Linked DNA regions of Homo sapiens. The protein of the gene in region 4 interacts with the protein of the main gene of each other region in a biochemical or structural test. Each region holds a gene or a part of one and is shown on either strand. Other genes may lie near its edges.

Region 1 (5,094 bases), on a different chromosome or scaffold from region 4:
TTATAACAATAGAAGTAAATGTACTGCTACATAAAATAGCATAGATATATCTTATAAACATAACAGTTATAAAATTTATAGTTCTAGTCATATGCTCTTCAAAAACAGGCATAGTTAACTACGGTGTTAGAAATCAGGATACTAGCTGACTTTGAAAATGAGGATGATAGGGATTGAGAGGGAGAACATGGGGGCAATCTACACTGCTGTTTTTATTCATCATTCTGAGTGGTGATTACATAGATATGCTCCTATTGTGCTAATCCATTAAGCTATACATGTATGAATTATGTTTCTAAACATGCCATACTTCAATAAAAGGTTTATTTTTTAGAAAATGGAAACAAAATCAATGAATAGCAATGTCAGGCCTACAATCAAGGACCAGGAAAACACTAATTTTTACAAGACTGTTGTAATTTGATAAGCAAAGCACTGTGTCTATTTAGCATGCTTTGAGATGGAAGTAATCTGTAATGTAGATCTTATAATGATATTTATGAAAATGAAATTAAATAGACTCCTTAGAAATTCTTAAAAGATGTTTTTACAAGAAGCAGTTTACCTATTATAAAATAATCAATACATGCACTCTGAGCTTCAGACATTATTATTTCTATTCCATAATTAGGTCAGAACCACTCCTTTTAAGTAGTACCAACAATCTAAGTAGTTAACTATCCTTAAAAATAATTTTTCTTATTTAACAACTCAGAAAACACAGTGATGATTTAAGGAATATGAAATCTAAGGCATATAAGAAATTATTAGTATGTATTTTTGGACACATTAAGAATACTATCAAGAATACTATCAAATAATGTATTTTAATAGGTTCTCACATCTTGTGTCCAAAATGAAACTCCTGTAGATCTTCTTTTCTCTCTTGGTCGTCGTCGTTCTCTGATTGATTTAGGTTGTGATTTATCTTCTCCTTCTTTCTCCTCTTCTCTTTTTTCTCCCTCTGTTAAGGATTGCAATGAACCACAATATAGCAATATATCTTGACAATATTTTGCAAGGTAATTGTAAAAACAATGGGTAAAATGGGCCAGGGGACTATCTAGGGGGATGGAAGGTAGGCAGCTGCTACTACTTAGCTCCAGCCAATTGTTGGTATGTGAGAATTCAGATCCAGTGTTGCCAGGTCAGCCAACTTTTCAAGAAATGGCAAAAATCTGAAGTTTGAAGTGAGTATCTCTAATTTTAAATGTTGGTTCAACATTTTTACAAACACAATGCAGGCCTCACACATAGAAGTTTAAAGAACTGAAACATCTCAATGATCAACATGAGAAAATATATAGCTGGAAATTGGGAAAAAACTTTATTTTCTGCTGTTTATTCTACATTACTACTGATATTATCATGACTAATACTGTAAGATTTAGGCTTTAAAATATGAAATGCCTATATTTAGTACTTATATCTGATTTAAAGTAGGAATTACTCAGAATTTAAATAGAAAGTTTATATAAAATAATAGGAAATGGTAATGAGTATCAATATGCCAATATATAGTTGAGAAAGAAATGTATTTTTTAAGAAATAAGCATAAAAATGTGTTTTAGTGAGAGCATTACATGTAGTTAGTAATTTTAGTTTACAACAATTTCACAAAAAAACATTTAAATGATATGATCTACACAGTAGGCAAGAAATAGCTTAAAGCATCTGAGAAGTACTACACTAGTAAACTGCTTCTAGAAATAGTCACCCACCAGTTCGATATTAACTTTTCGTTGTAGGTGGACATGAAGATTTTTGTGAAGTATTAGGTTATAAAAATATTAGTATCAACAGCAGGCCATATTCTATTTCTGTTTTCTACTTTTCTCATTCTCAACCTTCATATTCTTTCTGTTTAGGTTCGATGAATCACAAGTTAGGATGCTGTTCCTTTACTGTTGAATTATTATTTAGGAAACCCTAATCCAAAGGATTATATGAAGAAAGCAAAGTGTTTTCAAAATTTGGTATTCTTACCTCTTTCATTTTCTTTTGTTATTCCTCTGGAGTAAGCAGAAGTTATGCCTACAAGACTATTTGGCCTGTTTAGTTGACTTGAAGCATACAGTGAACTGCTCATAGTAGAAAGTGAAGAGGATGGAGTGGTTGAACTTGAAGTTGATACTGGCCTATAACGCTGGTAAGTCTGTGAAACATTAAGATCAAAACCCATTTGAAACATTAAACACAATTAAAAACATAAAAATACTTAAAAATTCATTTCAAAGAAAAAGTAGTATACTAATCACGCCAAAGTAATTCAAATTTCCAGCTAAAATCCTTTACAGTATTTTGCATATGGTTTGTTGGTATATAAATCTCTTGTATGTTAAGGATCATAAGGACTATTCATACCATTTGACTTAAATGTGCTTTTGATATACTGTTACCTCATCATACGTTCTGGAGTACTTTTGTTTATATTCATCTTCTCTAGATGTTTCTGACTCCTTCTTTTCTTCTTGTTTCTCTTTATCTTGTTTCTCTTTTTCCTCTTTTTCTTTTTCTTCATTTTCTTGTTCTCTGGTTCGGGTAGAACGACTTCTTCCTATTGTTTTCTCAGCTTCTTGAAGATCAGTTAATGTCACTCCCTGCACACACAAAAAGATCAATATAATTATGAGATGCATTAAAGCTTGTTTCAAGGAATATTTTAGAAATAGATATATTACATACAAATGCATTAAAAGTCAAATATGCATGTTTAAAATTGGTTTGCAAATGGAAACAGCAAGTTACATTCATTCTATGAAGAATCACCATTAGCAAGCACAACGATAGGTACTGGATACTCTATGCATATAAATGTTCCCCACAAGTTCAAACTAGAGAAGAATAGCCAGTATCTGTACTGTTTGTATATTATAAATATTTATGTTTATATATATGTCTGTGTGTGTGTATATATATGTGTGTATATGTATCTATATACACATGCATGATGATTGTTAAGGCTTAAAAGAGATTTCGATAAATTTTTCAAGATTTGACCTTGAAGAACAGGTTAGATTTCAAGAAGTGAAAAGTATAAAGACAGAAAAAGTATATTAAGGCCCTAGCAAATAGTTCAGCTTGAAAGCTAAGTAATGGTAAGGATAGACAGCTGAATCTGGACTGTGGAGCTTCTTAACTGTGGGAAAGCAGAAAGACACAAAAGTATACATCATATACAGCATAATCAGAATGGCAAAACGGAGGTAAGGAGATCGCCAGCCTGAATGACATTTTCTTCATACTTGCATATTAGTTGTTTATACCTAATATACGAGCCTATTCTCTGCCCCCGATTTCCAAATATTCATAGAACTTTTAAATACTTATTAGACATCATATGATTAATTTATTCTAACCAAATACTCTGGGCCAGACACTGTATTAGGAATAAGGATTTAAAAAATACTCAAAAAGACACAAAGGCATATGCTAATTAGATGAAATACAATAGTAGCAGTGTAACCATACAAAAGGCTATGAGCAACCTTTACCTTTTAAGGATTTATTCACACTAGAATTACTAGAATAACTACAGCAACCTTTACCTTTTAAGGATTTACTCACACTATATACTGACATCAATATTTTCACAACAAAGTGAAAAAGAGAAAGGTAACTTGTTTTATGTCAGTGTGTGTATATATATTTTATATGCTACTTATGTAAGTTTTATATATTAATTACATTAACTATACCTGTGTTGATCTTCTAGATTGTCTTGCTTGTCTAGATCTTGCTTTTCTTTGGGATTCAGACTCTTCATCCCTAACAGGAGTGAGGTATGATCTACAGTAGTAAATTGAAAAATCGTTAGTTGTAAATACAATACCTGTGAATGTAAATATCTATCAATGCATATGAATAAAACATACAGGTTTAATATCTTAGTAAGTTTTAAGGAAAAGTCTTCAGAAAATGGTCTTTGAAATTCAATAATGCAATCTTATAATTTCTTTTTAGATTGGAACTAGTTATATTTTAATAATTATATTTTAACATCACATTTTAACTTCCTAACTACATTTTTTAAAATAATGTAATTTAATTTTAAGATGGAACCACATTTTTAAAAAGGATTTAGAGAACTGAAGATTAAAAATTTTAGCTCTATTGAAAAAAATAGAAGGATTTCATTTAGCCCAATTAAGCAGAATGGATAAGGAGTAAATTTTTTGTCTGTTTTTAACTGAGGAAGGTCCTCTTCTCCAGCCCTGAAAACATCCCCCAAAAGTGATAATCTAAGCATCTTACTTAATGACCTACTAAAAGGGGTTTTAAATTATTCTCTACCTACAGTATTTTCAAATATTGGAAGACAGGTATCAAATTCCTTTCTAAATCTTTTTTTTGTTTGTTTTGTTTTTTTTTGAGACAAAGTCTCGCTCTGTCGCCCAGGCTGGAGTGCAGTGGCGCGATCTCAGCTCACTGTAACCTCTGCCTCCCGGGTTCAAGTGATTCTCTCACCTCAGCCTCCTGAGTAGCTGGGACTACCTGCACATACCACCACGCCCGACTAATTTTTTTATTTTTAGTGGAGATGGGGTTTCATCCATGTTGGCCAGGCTGGTCTCGAACTCCTGACCTCAAGTGATCTGCCTGTCTCGACCTCAGAGGGTGTTGGGATTAAAGGCGTGGGCCACCGCGCCCGGTCTCCCTGCATTCTTGTCAGTGTGCTCTTACTAATGACACGTCAGACAACATATTATTGTTCATACTTTTGAGTGCTCTAAAAAATTCCAGTGTTTTTTTATATATAAACAGCTTTTAAATCAGCATGTTACTTCTAAGTAACTGATTTTCTGATATAAAGAACAGGACTTGGCATTTATCCTCACTAAATTTCTTCTTATAAATTTAAGCCTATGTTTCCTCTTGTCACGGGGTATGCACCTTTTCAATAGCAAGTAATCTGTGTCAAAAGTTAAGTAGGGCTGGGTGTGGTGGGTCATGCCTGTAATTCCAGCACATTGGAAGGCTGAAGCAGGCTGATTGCTTGAGCCCAGGAATTCGAGCCCAGCCTGGGAAACATGAGGAAACCTGTCGCTACAAAAAAATAGAAAAATTAGCCAGGCATGTGGCACATGCCTGTAC
Region 2 (5,094 bases), on a different chromosome or scaffold from region 4:
TGGGGAGCACTTCCCTACGCACTCATAAACTAACCCTACAGGGGTTCATGCCGCAGCCCTGTGAGGCTGGCAGGGCAGGCTGAAAGCGAATGCTCTCATTCCTGCTAAGTGATGGTGGACCTTTGCTGTCATTAGTAAACAGGCCTGGCATTTGCTGGGGCCCTGGAGGACCTGCTCTCGTGAAACTCATCATTTCCTGGCTGGCGGGAGGGGCTCACCCGTGCTGCACGTCCAGAAGCTGAGGCCAGTTGCCTCGCCTGAGGGTGGGAGGTAAAAGGTACAAGTCTGGGCTTGAACTCAGATCCTTCAATTCTGAATCTGCTGCGTCTGCCACTAGGGCAGCGTTTCCACTCTCTGCACTGTGGACATCGGCGTGGGTCACTCTCTGGGGAGGGGCCATCCTGGGCACTGCAGGGTGCTGAGCAGCGTCCCTGGCCTCCACCCACTCCATGCCAGGAGCACCCCCAGTCATGAGAAAAACACAAATGTCCCAGACTTGGCCCAGTGTCCCCTGGGGGCAGAATTACCCTCAATTGACACCTCTTGGGTTAGGGGATTCCACGGACCCCCAAGAGACTCCGTGGCCCATGATCCTCTGCTCTGCTGAGGTCCCAGGAGGCTACACACATTGAAATCCACAGAGGGGGAGAGGAAGAGAATCCCAGGAGCTGAGGTCCCCTGGTTTACACCGTCTGCCATATTGGGAGTTTATTCTGGTGTCTGGTGTGAGCAGGGAGCAGACTTGATTTTTTTTTCCCAAATAACTAATGCAGTCCCCCACTTGGCATTCAGGGCTGGATCCTTCTCTGGGTGAGTTTGTCCTGGGCACTGCAGGTGCTGAGCAATGTCCCTGGCCTCCACCCACTCCATGCCAGGGGCAGCCCCTCCTCTAGTTGTGACAAACACAAATGCACCCCCCGCACTGCCCCGTATTTCCAAGTCCCCTGGGGGCAAAACTGCCCTGGGGCAAGACCTCAGCTAGATTGGCAGCTTCCCCTCTGATCTAATCTACCAGGGACTCCACTGAGGGGATTCTGGGGGCCCCGATACCCGATCCATCTTAGCCCAGCCAAGTCCGCATCCCCAGAGCTCCGCAGCTGCCAGGCGCTTCTGAAACCAGCATCTGCAGCCCGGCAGAGCTGGCATGGTGACTCAGGCTGCCTTGGTTCTCCAGGGCACGTAGGGTGCGACTCCCCACCCAGGTGTCCCAGCTCAGCCCATCCCTTTGTCCCCGGTGGGAATTGTCTGTGCTTGGAGTGGCTCACACCCCCGACCACTTCCTTTTTCTTCTCATTTGCCTCGTGGCCCAGAGGATGTTGGCGGGCTGAGTCAGGGATAGACCACCCTGCCCCCTGCCCCCACAGGCCTGAACACGGTGAAGATTCTGCCCCTCAACACCGGACGATGTCTGGGGACATCTGTGGTTGTCAGGTTTTGGGGGAACTCCTGGCATGGAGTGGGTGGAGGCCAGGAACGCTACTCAGCACCCTGCAGTGCCCAGGACACTCCACCCCAGAGAATGACTCAATACCCAGGGGGAGACCCTGGCCCCAGCCCCACACAGGAAGTAACAACTTCCTCCTTCCCTGTGGGACTTATGGTCAATGAAATACGACATTAAACATAGCAATGATACAAATACGTTATTTTTTTTTTTAAGACGGAGTCTCGCTCTGTTGCCCAGGCTGGAGTGCAGTGGCGCGATCTCGTCTCACTGCAACCTCCGCCTACTGGGTTCACGCCATTCTCCTGCCTCAGCCTCCCGAGTAGCTGGGATTACAGCTGCCTGCAACCGTGCTCAGCTAATTTTTGAATTTTTAGTAGAGACGGGGTTTCACCGTGTTAGTCAGGATGGTCTCGATCTCCTGACCTCGTGATCCGCCCACCTTGGCCTCCCAAAGTGTTGGGATTACAGGCGTGAGCCACCGCGCCCGGCCAAAATACGTGCATTATTTTAACACACTTTTAAAACTAATAAGCTGAATATAAAGCTCTGCATTAAAGCCAGAAGACCTAAGAGAAAACCCACAACCTGTGGGGAAGAAAAGGGAGGGAAACCTCCGTGAAACTGACCCCTGCAGTAAGTAACCCTACAACCAAGATTCCAGTGCCGGCTGCTGGCCAGATCAGGGGAACACGCGCTTCCTGCAGAGTCATTCCCAAGCCCATCTGGCTGGAAAGAAAAGCCTTAAACTTGAGCCAAAACCTCTCAACCCAGAGGAGACTTCTCATCCTTGTGTAACCCAGGACGGCCCGGCCACACAGTTTTAAGAAGAATGAGACACAGGCTCTGACACGGAAGGACACCCAATATCCGATAAGTGCAAAAAATAAGTTGCAAAACAGTATGGATACCCAGACCTTTTTTTCTTTTTTGGAGACCGAGTCTTGCTCTGTCACCCAGGCTGGAGTGCAGTGGCGCAATCTCGGCTCACTGCAAGCTCTGCCTCCCGGGCTCAAGCAATTCTCCTGCCTCAGCCTCCCAAGTAGCTGGGATTACAGGCGCCCGCCACTACGCCCAGCTAATTTTTGTATTTTTGGTAGAGACGGGGTTCCACCATGTTGGCCAGGCTGGTCTCAAACTCCTGACCTCAAGTGATCCACCCACCTCGGCCTCCCAAAGTGCTGGGATTACAGGCGTGAGCTACTGCGCCCAGGCTCTAAGACCTTTTTTGTTAAAGAAGGAATAAAAGCCGGGGTGCGGTGGCTCATGCCTGTAATCCCAGCACTTTGGGAGGCCAAGGCAGGTGGATCACAAGGTCAGGAGTTTGAGACTGGCCTGGCCGAGATGGTGAAACCCTGTCTCTACTAAAAATACAAAAATTAGCCAGGCGTGGTGGCGGGCGCCTGTAATCCCAGCTATTCAGGAGGCTGAGACAGGAGAATCGCTTGAACCTGGGAGGCGGAGGTTGCAGTGAGCCGAGATTGTGCCACTGCACTCCAGCCTGGGCGACGAGCAAAACTCTGTCTGTAACAGAAAAAAAAAAGAGAAAGAAAGAATAATAAATTGCTACAACCATGAAAAAAAATAAGGAACTATTGTGTCTGGAAGGAAAGGTTTTTTTTTTTTTTTTTTTTAGCTGCCTGTTTGTTTGAGATGAGGTTTCGCTCTATCCCCCAGGCTGGAGTGCAGTGGTGCAATCACGGCTCACTGCAGCCTCAACCTCCTGGGCTCAAATGACCCTCCCACCTCAGCCTCTCAAGTAGCTGGGACCACAGGTGCACGCCACCACGCCCAGCTAACTTTTGTATTTTTGGTAGAGATGGGGTCTTACTATGTTGCCCAGGCTGGTCTCAAACTCCTGGGTTCAAGCTATCCTTCTGCCTTGGCCTCCCAGAGTGCTGGGATCACAGGCATGAGCCATAGCGCCCGACCCTCTGTGAATCTTTGTGGTAAACTGACATACTTTTCCCAGTCTGGGTATATAAGGAAAAAAACAGTCATTTTGATATACTCAAAAGGAAAAGGGGGTGAGGCGCGGTGGCTTACGCCTGTAATCCCAGCACTTTGGGAGGCTGAGGCAGGCAGACTGCCTGAGCTGGGCAACATGGTGAAATCCAGTCTCTACTAAAACACCAAAAAATTAGCCGGGCGTGGTGGCGCATGCCTGTAATCCCAGCTACTCAGGAGGCTGAGGCACGAGAATCTCTTGAGCTCAGGAGGCGGAGGCTGCAGTGGGCCCTGGTTGCGCCACTGCACTCCAGCCTGGGCAAGAGAAACTCCATCTCAAAAAAAAAAAAAAAAAAAAAAAGGAAAAGGGAAGAGGCCAGGCATGGTCCCCAGAAGGTATTGTGTCAAAGTCTGAAAGAAAACCCAAGTTCAGCTTTCTTTTGTGTGCAGCCAGGCACACGCTGGACCACAGCCACCCACTGTGTGTTCCAGAGACTTCTCTGGGACTCCGAAAGGCAGAAGTGAAGGCCTCCTCCCAGAATCCCGTTTCTGAAGTCGGATTTACCTTTTCGGCTTAAGCCATTTGACCTTCTAAATGCCAGGAAAACAGGAACAGAGCTCATCGGCTGGGGAAGGTCTAAAACTCCCCACCTTAAAACCCCAAGCTCAGTCAGCTGTGTGGGGAATTTTTCTGAAACCTCCACCATCAGGTCCCTAAGGTGGGAGGATACCTCCTTGGAAGGGAATTTTTTTTTTTTTCGAGACGTTGTCTTACTCTGTTGCCCAGGCTGGAGTGCAGTGGCGTGATCTTGGCTCACTGCAAGCTCCGCCTCCCGGGTTCAAGTGATTCTCCTGCCTCAGCCTCCTGAGTAGCTGGGACTACAGGCACGCGCCAGCATGCCCGGGTAAATTTTGTATTCCTCAGCCGATGAGCTCTGTTCCTGTCTTCCTGGCATTTAGAAGGTCAAATGGCTTAAGCTGAAAAGGCAAATCCGACTTCAGAAACGGGATTCTGGGAGGAGGCCTTCACTTCTGCCTTTCGGAATCCCAGAGAAGTCTCTGGAACACACAGTGGGTGGCTGTGGTCCAGCGTGTGCCTGGCTGTGTATTTAGTAGAGATGGGGTTTTGCCATGTTGGCCAGGCTGGTCTTGAATGCCTGACCTCAGGTGATCTGCTCTCCTCGGCCTCCCAAAGTGCTGGGATTACAGGTATGAGCCACCCGCACCTGGCCAGCACATCCCAATTCGGACCAGCCACATTGCAAGGCCTCCACAGCCACAGGTAGTAAGCTCAGCTCCAGAGTTAAAAGAGAAAAATCAACCTGTGGAAAGAGAGGGAGCTGGGAAGGGTGCAGTGGAACGGGTGTTGCTTGAGGTGGGTGCCTGTGTCGTCCCTGGGGAAAGGGAAACACATCCAGGGGGTCCGGAGGACAGGGACGTGACATGCTGGGATTTCACTTTCTTAGTTCTCACTCTGTAATCGGTAGATCTCAGTGAGTTCTAATAAACAGGTCCCTGACAACTGCGGTTAAGAACCCGGCTTCTGGAAGTTCTCAGGGCTGCAACTCTGCAACTCTGACAGCCCGGGGGGCTCATCCAGCCCTCCTTCCTTCCCTATGTAAGTTCTTTTTTTTTTTTTTTTTTTTTTTGAGACAGAGTCTCACTCTGTCGCCCAGGCTGGAGTGCAGTGGTGCGATCTCGGC
Region 3 (5,094 bases), on a different chromosome or scaffold from region 4:
GCTAAGGCCACCAGCACAGTGCTGAAGACAAATAGCAACTGTAGGTCCCACTTTCTGGTTCTTGTCTTTAAAGGGAATACTTCTAATGCCTCACTGAAGAATCAAGTCTACTCTAGATTTTCTAGAGATACTTACCAGTTTCACCTATTTACTTTCTATTCCTAGGCTGCAAAGAAAATCATGAACAGCTTTAATTTGTAATCAAATGCTTTTCTCCTTTTGTCTGGGAATTACTCTGAATAATTTTTACCATGTACACACTGGTGTTTACATTGTGTCACTGGAGCACATATCCTTGGTCATGACTTTAAAATACATTGCTACATTTGGTTTGCTAGCTTTTAACTTAAGTTTTGAGAATAATTGCTCATGTATGAAATCAGTCTACAGTCAGTTTTCTTCTTTCACTCCTTGTTTTGTAGTGACCTCGCAATAAGCAGGGAGGCATTCCTTCTTGTAATGGCTGGAATGGTCTCTAAGACTAAAGCTCTAAGCACAGGCTTAGCTTCAGTCCTTAAGTTTTGACAGACATTTTTCCCATTATTCTCTCAGTTTTAGGTTTTTAATATCCATTACAATTCCTTTTTTGAGTTTAGAAGTGAATTTCTAAGGGTCACGTTCTTTTAAAGCTATCATTTTGCTACTGAATTTTCATGACTGCATTATGTCCTGAGATAATCATCTGTATGTTACTGAAAATAAGTAAAGGTTTTTGTAAAACCAGTCGACCTGAAACCGGTTTTCATGGGCCATGCTCTGTAGCCTGTTACACAAGCCAATTTCTATTGTGATTAAAGATTTATCAATTCTCATAGTTCTATCAAACTGCTAGATGTAAAATACAGTCTTCTGAACACATTTATGGGGGAAAAGGCACTTAGGGGCCTAAACTCTCCATCTCTTCATTAAGATTTATTGTGTTTAATGGAGACAACAGAAAGACATCAAGCTAGTATCTGAACATTCATTTGAATCAAATTAAAAATTTTAATGTTTGAGGTTTCTGCCCCACCATCCTCCCAATAACCTGAAGCTACCAGCAGGATCTCACCCCTGGTTACCTTTTGAAGACCGCAGTCTCTGTCTTGGCATCTACAGTGAGGCTGAGCGTTTCCTTCATGCCGCCATTCATCACTGTCTCAGTTACCTTGTCTGTACTTTCTGCATCCTCCTCTCCGTCAGAGCTGGCTTCCATGGCCACACTGCCTGCCGCTGAAAAGAACACAGCTGATGGTCACACACAGCAAGCCCGAAAAGGAACTGGCACCCCACCACTGTACAAACCCATCTACCCAACGTGACATCTACTGCTTGAAGAAAAAAAAGAGTGAGATGGCTTCTGCCTGCTGTTGTCTGGGCCACATTCTTGATGGGGAGAGACTTCTTAAAGATGCCCACTAAAGAGGGGTTTCATGGGTTTTCTTTACTAGAGACTAGCAAGTCGCCTACATCCCTCCCAGCTCAGCGTCCACCTCCATACCCAGCTTCTCCCAGCAGACACTTGTGCTCCTAACTGTTCCAGTGTGGGGCAGAGCAGGCAGTTACACACTCTACCCTCTACTCACTTGTTTTCCTCAGTTGGGCTCTATTTGCTTTGCTTTGTTTTAAAAATTACTTTCTTGTGGTGTTGCTGGTGGATCGTTTCTTTGTTCTCTAATGGGAAGCCAACATAGGTGATGAGCCTGGCTGAGGTGAGGCTTCCTGGATTCAAACATCGACATCACCACTTCCTAGCTGTAGACTACTTGGACAAGGAACCTCATCTATAACCTGAGTTTCCTCATCCAGGAAAGGGGATCAGTGCACCCACTTACAGAACCACTGAGGAGTCAAATGCGGGAATCTGTATCAAATGTTCAGGAGGATGATGAAACCAGCATTAGTTATTGGTTTTATTCCTTTCCCTTGCCCCTGGGAAGGAGGGTTCTCACACCCTCTACCAAAACCTCATTTCATTTTCTAAGAACTCACTCCTTAAGCCCACCTCATGATTCGTGCCCTCCACATCCTTTTGGTTCCCATCACACTCCCTTTGCTAGCATCCCCCTCCTCCCAAAGCCCCGTCCATCAAGGTGAAAACAGTTCAGGGCCGTGCAAGGAACACATTTGACTAGGTAGAGTAATAGGAAAACCCACTGGAACTTTAGAGATTCCCAGGACTATTCAATCTGCTTACAATGGCGAAGTGAAAATAACCAGCCCCATAGCTCTAAACAAACCCAGATACACCTACATGCTTGAGCAAAGCAAACTCCAAGGGACAACTACACACAGGCTTGGCTGCACACGTCTAATTCCAGTTTTATTCACCCTGGGTACTATGGGCTTAGGCCTTCTTCCCTCTAGACCTCAGTTTCCTAATCTGCACACTGCATGCCTGGTAACTTAGAGCCCTTACTCTTTCCAGAGTCAGCATGCTGTGGTTCTAGAAGGACAGGCACAATTTCTTTCATCAGCTGCCCTGTGGACATCAGACCCACCATCTCACTCCCGGGCTCCACTAGCCCCTGAGCCTGAGAATCAGGTCTGGTTTGACAAAGCAGCCACGTGACCCTGGCGTGTACCCAGGCCTCTCTGCACGCACCTTCTGGCTGCACTGCCAGGGCAGCCGCACTGGGAGTCAGAGGGTCCATGGGTTCAGTGCTGGTTTCCATTTCCACTGGAGAATTACTCCTTAAAGAATCTTTTGTGCTTTCAAAAAAGAGAAAATTCAGATATTAGCAGCAGGGAATGGTCCTCAGTTACCCCAAGATTCACAATAAGCCTTTACAAGTAAGTTTTTGTTAGGAGACATTAGCATCTGTGTAAGAGTCACTGGGTTACAAACTCCAGTGACACATGGATCTAAGTGCCAGTAGCTGTTTGAAGAAGGACATGAGTGCGGGCAGGCAAATGTTCTGTTAAGCCAGCAAGGCAGTAAGACAGGGACTTTGTAAAGCATTCTAGACAGGCTCATCATGTCCCAACTTCTCATCCCACCATAGTCACTAGGAGGCTCCCAGAGCTTGAACAGCAAAGACGTACATTGTGCAATGGCAACGGTATTTATCAGGTTGACTGGTTTTACAAAAACCTTTACTTATTTTCAGCCACACTGCCTGGGAGAGACTGGCCCTCTTAATGATATTTGTTGTTGGAACTGTGGAAACATAGTAAAAAAACACCAAATGCCTGAGCAGTAAGGGGTAGGGGTGAGGGAGATCATTACACTTCCTCTTTTATCCCTCATTCCCACAAACTCAGAGACGTGCACACAGAGGGTAAAGAGAAGCAAGCTGCTTCAATCACACCCTCAAGTAACCAAAGGCTCTTATCCTCGGGTTATAAACAGACCAAAAAAAGGAGTAGGCGGAAATGTATGTCCTGTACTGAAAAGCGGGGTAGACGAAATAACTCATTATTTTGGAGACATTTTTCACAAATCTCACTTGTACCTCTGAGTAGTAACTTAATGCTATTACTATGGTTACTACAAAGCAACATGGGTTTCAGCCTATTCTTTGGTTTGTCTAAGACACTAACTGTCAGCCCAAAACAGCTTGTCTTCCTATCTTCCGAGTTACCAATGATTGGGAGCCCTTAATTGACAGCACTGGACTAGCTGCAAGTGAACTGTAAGTTCATATTATCTACTGAATTCAAGATCCATTTTGTTTGCCTGCCACACCCCACACAGAGGTGCTGTGCCTGTCAGGATTTCTTGGCTTCACCTCATTCCTCTTCTCCTCAATTCTGTCCTGACAGCTCTATGAAGCCAGAAAAGCTCACGGAGATGCATCTTCTGCTGCGTCCTGCTAACTCCCTGGGACCGCATCCTCACAAGCTACTTTGTTCAAGAACTACTCCCATTTCCAATTAATCCAGGAGGAAAGGAAAGGAAGATGGTGATTGTTCTTCTTACAACACAGAGCTGTGTTAGTATGCTGATGTTTAATCTTTTTCAGGGCAGTATATTCAACTTGGAAGTCAGTCAAGGTGAAGAACACACGTTAACAGCAAACACCTGACCATTCCCAGGTCCCCCGTGGAAGGGTGTAGAGACAGCACATGTTCGCTCACCTCAGGGAAGACGTGAACTCTGAAAAAGAAGCCCAGCCCGTCTCTTTAGTTGGCATCGGCTCCTCTGTGCTCCAGACATCAGATCCCACAGAATCCAATGGAGCACCGTGGGTTGTTTCCATTGGGACATCAAAGTTAGCTGACCAGTTGGGTGCTAAAAAGAGGGGAGAAATTCTATTTGGAAAACACTTCAGTCGTTTCATGTACCACAAGGTATTTATCAAAAACACATTAGCAAAAGAGACTGGAGCTGTGGGAGAAAGACACTCTCACCAATGAGGGCAGGAGCGGACAGGGCACAGCCACCTGGAGGGCACTCTAACAATGATCCCACATTCTCAAACCTCCCATTTCTTTTTATTATTATTTTTTTGAGATGGAGTCTCGCTCTGTCGCCCAGGCTGGAGTGCAGTGGCACGATCTCCGCTCACTGCAAGCTCCGCCTCCCGGGTTCACGCCATTCTCCTGCCTCAGCCTCCTGAGTAGCTGGGATTACTGGCACCCGCCATCACGCCTGGCTAATTTTTTGTATTTTTAGTAGAGACAGGTTTCACTGTGTTAGCCAGGATGGTCTCAATATCCCGACCTCGTGAACCGCCCGCCTTGGCCTCCCAAAGTGCTGGGATTACAGGCGTGAGCCACCGCGCCTGGCCTCAAACCTCCCATTTCTAACAACTGTTCCAAAAGAAATACTACACAGAGATTCAAAGCTACATGCACAAAGAGGGATTAATGTTAATTTCTTAGTTTTGACAAATGTACCATGGCTGTATTCATACTTGGGGAAGCTAAGTGAAGGATATATGGAGACTTACTATCTTGGCAATGTTTCTATAAATCTAAATTATTCAAAAGTAAAAAGGTTATTTTTCTAAAAAAAGAACATGTTGATTATTCAACTCCAATAAACTAGAAATAACCTTAATGCTTCCCAGTCCGGGTCTGACTGCACTTCGCCCATTCTGCGGGCTCCCTGCAGTGCACTGCAGTTAGGCTTCCTAAGTCCTGCAGAACCAGGTCTGGCCTCAGAGGCTG
Region 4 (5,094 bases):
TCTGAAATAATAATTATCTTTGTGGAGGAGAAAAGGGGAAGTGATTGTTTAAGGGCTTCTAAAGTACTGATAATCTAGTTCTTTAACTGAATGTTGGATATGAGGATTCATTAAAAAATTATTTTAAAAATGTTTTTGGCCAGGCGCAGGGGGCTCACACCTATAATCTCAGCACTTTGGGTGGCTGAGACAGGTGGATCACCTGAGGTCAGGAGTTCGAGATCAGCCTGGCCAACATGGTGAAACCCCATCTCTATTAAAAATACAAAAATTAGCCGGGCGTACTGGCAGGTGCTTATAATCCCAGCTACTCGGGAGGCTGAGGCAGGAGAATCACTTGAACCCAGGAGGGGGATATTGCAGTGAGCCAAGATGGTGCCACTGCACTCCAGCCTGGGCGACAGAGCGAGACTCCATCAAAAAAAAAAAAAAAAAAAAATTGTTTGTCTGGCATATTTTCAAATAAAATGTAAAAGGTGTGACTCAAAAATGTTAATAATATTTAGAAACAATCAAGTCTAGCACATTCTTTCATTTCATAAGTCTAAACAATCAAGTCTAGCACATTCTTTCATTTCATAAGTCTAAGTGCCTAATGGAGTCACCCAAGTTTATCCAACAGAATCAAGACCTGACCCACATCTTCTGGCTCTCATCCAGTGATGATACCATCTTATATTTTACTACATCAATAAATTACATTATTATGAACAAACTAAAATAAATTTTATGAGTTTACTTACCACTCTGATAGTACTTAGAATCGTGTGTCCATCTGAAGCCAGTGCAGAGGCCAAAGTCAGTCAATTTAATATGACCATCACGATCAATCAAAATATTATCAGGTTTAATATCTCTATGAATAAAACCCATTTTATGAACACTTTCAACTGCACAGGTAAGTTCTGCTATGTAGAATCGTGCCAGACTTTCTGGAAAGATGCCCATTCTAATTAATAGGCTCATCATATCACCCCCAGGAATGTAGTCCATTACAAAGTATAAATTGTCCTTATCTTGGAATGAATAATATAGACGAACTACCCATTCATTGTCAGCTTCAGCCAGGATATCTCTCTCAGCCTTAACATGAGCGACTTGATTTCGAAGAAGAACATCTTTCTTTCGAAGAGTTTTTGTTGCATACAAAGCCTTAGTATCTACTTTTCTTGCTAGACAGACTTCACCAAATGCTCCTATTCCTAGTGTCTTTATCTTCACAAACATAGACTTGTCCATTTTAGCCCTTTTAAGACGGATGTAATTAGATTCTTTTTGGCAAAGCATCTTTCTCATTTGATCCTGGGCATCTTGAGATAATCCAACCTAGGCAAATAAACTAGATGTTAAATAAGAATTATCTTCTTCAATATTGAATATTAAGAAATAGCTTGGGAAAAATTCAGGCATATATTTAAAGGTTAAATGCATAATTTTTAATAAAGCATGTTAGAAATCTAGAAAACATTTCAAAGGAAATTAATGATCAAAAGTGCAGCCTAAGGGGTAGTTAAAAGGATATTCAAAGTGAGTACCTATGCAAATTCAGCTGTGGAGTGCAAGAAGAGGGTACCAGATGAGTAAGCTTTCTACTCTTCTCTAATGCACTCCGAAAAAAAAAAAAAAAAAGGTTCTCAATGTGCAACAAACATCTGTTAACATGTTAACATGCATATTCATTTATCTCTCTGTATATGCTTCTCTTGGTGGAATGCCTAGGCCTCAAATATTCTTCCTATTTTGTCTTTCATGAAAAAAAATTCTTCCACTCCAGGCTCATTTATTCTAAAAAATTAATGTACCAAAGAACAACAAAACAATGCCTTTTCTAACCCACCAATCCTTTCCCTATTCTCAATAAATATACAACAGTCATTAATAATCTTTCCTTTTCTATTTTTCAGGGCATCAGAGTAAAGGTGCGACTCACAGTCTACCACTAACACAAATTGCAAAGGGTTTCTCCTACTTCGAAAAGAACAACCTGGTTGTTTACAAGATATCCTTTGGATACTTAGGAATACTTCAGTGTGACTCATGAAAATATCAAAAAATAGATTAAAAACAAAAACTAACTTCTAAGTATTATAGATATGGAATGCCTGGATTTAGAAGGGAGAAACATTTTGGCTAATTAATAAAGAATTAATTAAAGGGTTTAAATAGAAAAGAAATCCAGTTGGAAAAGTGGGGTCTAATTCTAGAAATACAAGACTAAAATAGAACAACCACATGCTTCTGTTAGGATTCACATTTGCATGCAAAATCTTTTAAGAAGGATGGCATGCCAGACTTAGTTCAGAACTGTTTCTCTTAAAATCTTACTTGCCTACACAGTAATGGAGACTACAGAAGTCAGCAAAGCTTCCAACACCATAAAAGTTTAAATCAGCTATTAGTGAAAGTGAAGAGGAAAAAGGAAAAATAAACTAAGAAAATACACATAGGCAGACTTTAGTAAGAAATCCTAAGAATTAAAATATGGATAAGTCATAGAAATTATTATGGTATTTCTCATTTAATAAAATATAAAATAGAAATAACAATACTGTAAAATCAGATTTATTAAAATCATTTTAAAAGAATGGTTCAAGTATATAAAGGTGTTTAATCACAAGGTTAAGCCTCTTGGATTGTGAGTGACAGATGTAAGATTAGGAGTCAAATCTTTGAACTCTAAGCATATGATAAAAACAATAATGGCCAGGCACAGTGGCTCATGCCTGTAATCCCAGTGCTTTGGGAGGCAGACGCGGGTGGGTCATGGCGTCAAGAGATCAAGACCGGCCTGGCCAACATGGTGAAACCCCGCCTCTACTAAAAATAAAAAATTAGCTCAGCGTGCTGACGGGCGCTTGTAGTCCCAGCTAGTGGGGAGGCTGAGGCAGGAGAACTGCTTGAACCCGGGAGGCGGAGGTTGCAGTGAGCTGAGATGGCGCCACTGCACTCCAGCCTGGCGACAGAGTGAGATGTCGTCTCAAAAAAAAAAAAAAATGATGATCGTACTACCTTAATATCTAGAGATCTATGTGGAATGACAACACAGATTAAAGTGTGTTTACTTACTCTGATCTCCCTTTTAGTATAGTTTCACTAAATAATTTTAGCACATTTTTCTCCAGTATATTATAAAAATGAAATGAGAAGGGAGATATAACTGAAGGAAACTTCTTTACACTTTTTAATAAGATATATGTGATGAATAAACCTATAAACTCCAAATTTTCTAAAAGTAAATGTTTTATAAGTATATCAAGAGATGAGACCCACGTATTTCTTTTTTCTTTTTTTTTTTTTTTTGAGACGGAGTCTCACTGTCGCCCACACTGGAGTGCAGTGGCGCGATCTCGGCTCACTGCAACCTCCGCCTCCGGGGTTCACGCCATTCTCCTGCCTCAGCCTTCCAAGTAGCTGGGACTACAGGCGCCCGCCACCATGCCCAGCTAATTTTTTTTGGTATTTTTAGTAGAGACGGGGTTTCACTGTGTTAGGCAGGATGGTCTCGATCTCCTGACCTCATGATCTGCCTGCCTCAGCCTTCCAAAGTGCTTTGATTACAGGCGTGAGCCCCCATGCCCCAGCCTGAGACCCACATATTTCTAGTTTATTTTTAAATGTTGTAAGATATTGTATGAAGCCTAGAAGACAACCCTTCCTCCAATTTTCATATAAAGGTATTATGTACACCTAAACTGTATACCGCAAATTATATTTTTCTTAATTTACACGAGATTTTATTATAGGAAATTCTGAATAAATATTGAAATACTAAAATAAAATGCTACAATCAAAAGTACTTTAATATTTATTCACTTTTAAATTCCATAACTGATAATATATTTTATTTAGCTATAAAAAGAAAGAAAAATACTGGACACAATATTTTAAAATAAACACCAAGCAAACAGATGATTAAGTATAAAAATGGACATTTTAAAAGGTTTTACCCGCATCATTTCATTCTCTAATTGTTTTTTACGATGTAGACGCTGCTGATGAGATTTGAGTACATTTTCTACATGTTGCTCCATAAAGAATTTAAATGCTTGAGGAGAATAACTTTGAATACGAGATTCCCTTCGCTCTTCATCTTTCTTGTTTTTCCTAACAGTAATAGGTGAAGTTGTAATCTGTTTCTTTTCTTTATCCCCACTATCAACATTTTCATAACTCTTTTCACTCTCATCTTCCTTGGGCAAGCTTGGCTGATCCTCTTTGCTAGGCTTACTGATTGACTCGTATGGAGGAACAGATGGGTTTTGGTGCAGCAGATGTTTTGGGTAGGGTGGTGGTGGTCCTTGATAGTTTGGAGCTTCAGCAACAGGTGGCATCACAGTCACATTTGAAGCGGTTCCCTCAGGAAAAGGACTGGGTTGAACAGTTTGAATTGGCTGTGGTATCCAAGAAGGGTGTGTAGGTGCTAAAGCAGTCTGTAGCTCTGGTTTTAATACACGCATACTTTTCACAGGCTGTTGAATAGGAGCTGGTGTAATTGCAGTGACTGTTGTAGCAGAAGGCTGAGAATTAGCAGAGTGACTTGCTCTATTTCCTAATGGGTTATTAAAAGAATTTGACCTCACTGGTATGTTAGGTTGCCATGTAGGGATTTCATGCCCACTGCTCGGGGATGACTGGGCTGGAGCAGAAGATGACTGAGGCCAATTTGTTTGCAGTCCAGGTACACTAATGTTATATAGTTCCATGTTATGACTATTTCTGTTTGGCACCATCATAGACTGAGGAATACTTCCATTTGTATATGACGAAGGAGCAGCAGATCCCCCTGTTTGTAAAGCAGAAGGGCTTTGTCCATTAGCTGCTGTCAGAGGATATGGAGGTGGTGGCTGCCGATTCACAGTGCCAGCAGGGACAACATTTTGGTGTATCATGAAATCAGTTTGTCCAGTACCATTCTGCATTCCAGGTCTCCCTGATGGAAAGTTAAATTTGCTAGAACTCTGCATGATGATTGGTTGTCTGCCAACAGGAACAGAACTAATGCCTCTCTGTCCTTGATTAGGAGGATTCATGGGGGAAGTGTTGAGAGGTGGTGGAGGATAGCCCTCTTGCCATGCCCCAGGTGGGACAGGAGAG

The links.
Region 1: of the proteins of LATS1 (region 4) and PPP1R12A, one has a biochemical effect on the other in vitro, tested with the Homo sapiens proteins (one study listed by BioGRID).
Region 2: the proteins of LATS1 (region 4) and MOB3A form a complex in vitro, tested with the Homo sapiens proteins (one study listed by BioGRID).
Region 3: of the proteins of LATS1 (region 4) and PPP6R3, one has a biochemical effect on the other in vitro, tested with the Homo sapiens proteins (one study listed by BioGRID).

The regions. Positions count from the first base shown.
Region 1 is NC_000012.12:79,794,796-79,799,889, forward strand, and holds part of PPP1R12A (protein phosphatase 1 regulatory subunit 12A), read right to left. Parts: intron 3,790-5,094; coding exon 3,699-3,789; intron 2,601-3,698; coding exon 2,400-2,600; intron 2,156-2,399; coding exon 1,987-2,155; intron 965-1,986; coding exon 843-964; intron 1-842. UniProt on the Homo sapiens protein: Key regulator of protein phosphatase 1C (PPP1C). Mediates binding to myosin. As part of the PPP1C complex, involved in dephosphorylation of PLK1. Capable of inhibiting HIF1AN-dependent suppression of HIF1A activity.
Region 2 is NC_000019.10:2,089,025-2,094,118, forward strand, and holds part of MOB3A (MOB kinase activator 3A), read right to left. Parts: intron 1-5,094. UniProt on the Homo sapiens protein: May regulate the activity of kinases.
Region 3 is NC_000011.10:68,599,460-68,604,553, reverse strand, and holds part of PPP6R3 (serine/threonine-protein phosphatase 6 regulatory subunit 3), read right to left. Parts: intron 4,214-5,094; coding exon 4,060-4,213; intron 2,692-4,059; coding exon 2,585-2,691; intron 1,213-2,584; coding exon 1,062-1,212; intron 1-1,061.
Region 4 is NC_000006.12:149,679,132-149,684,225, forward strand, and holds part of LATS1 (serine/threonine-protein kinase LATS1), read right to left. Parts: coding exon 3,948-5,094; coding exon of another isoform or gene 3,885-3,947; exon of another isoform or gene 3,783-3,884; intron 2,393-3,782; exon of another isoform or gene 2,330-2,392; intron 1,327-2,329; coding exon 744-1,326; coding exon of another isoform or gene 736-743; intron 1-735. UniProt on the Homo sapiens protein: Negative regulator of YAP1 in the Hippo signaling pathway that plays a pivotal role in organ size control and tumor suppression by restricting proliferation and promoting apoptosis.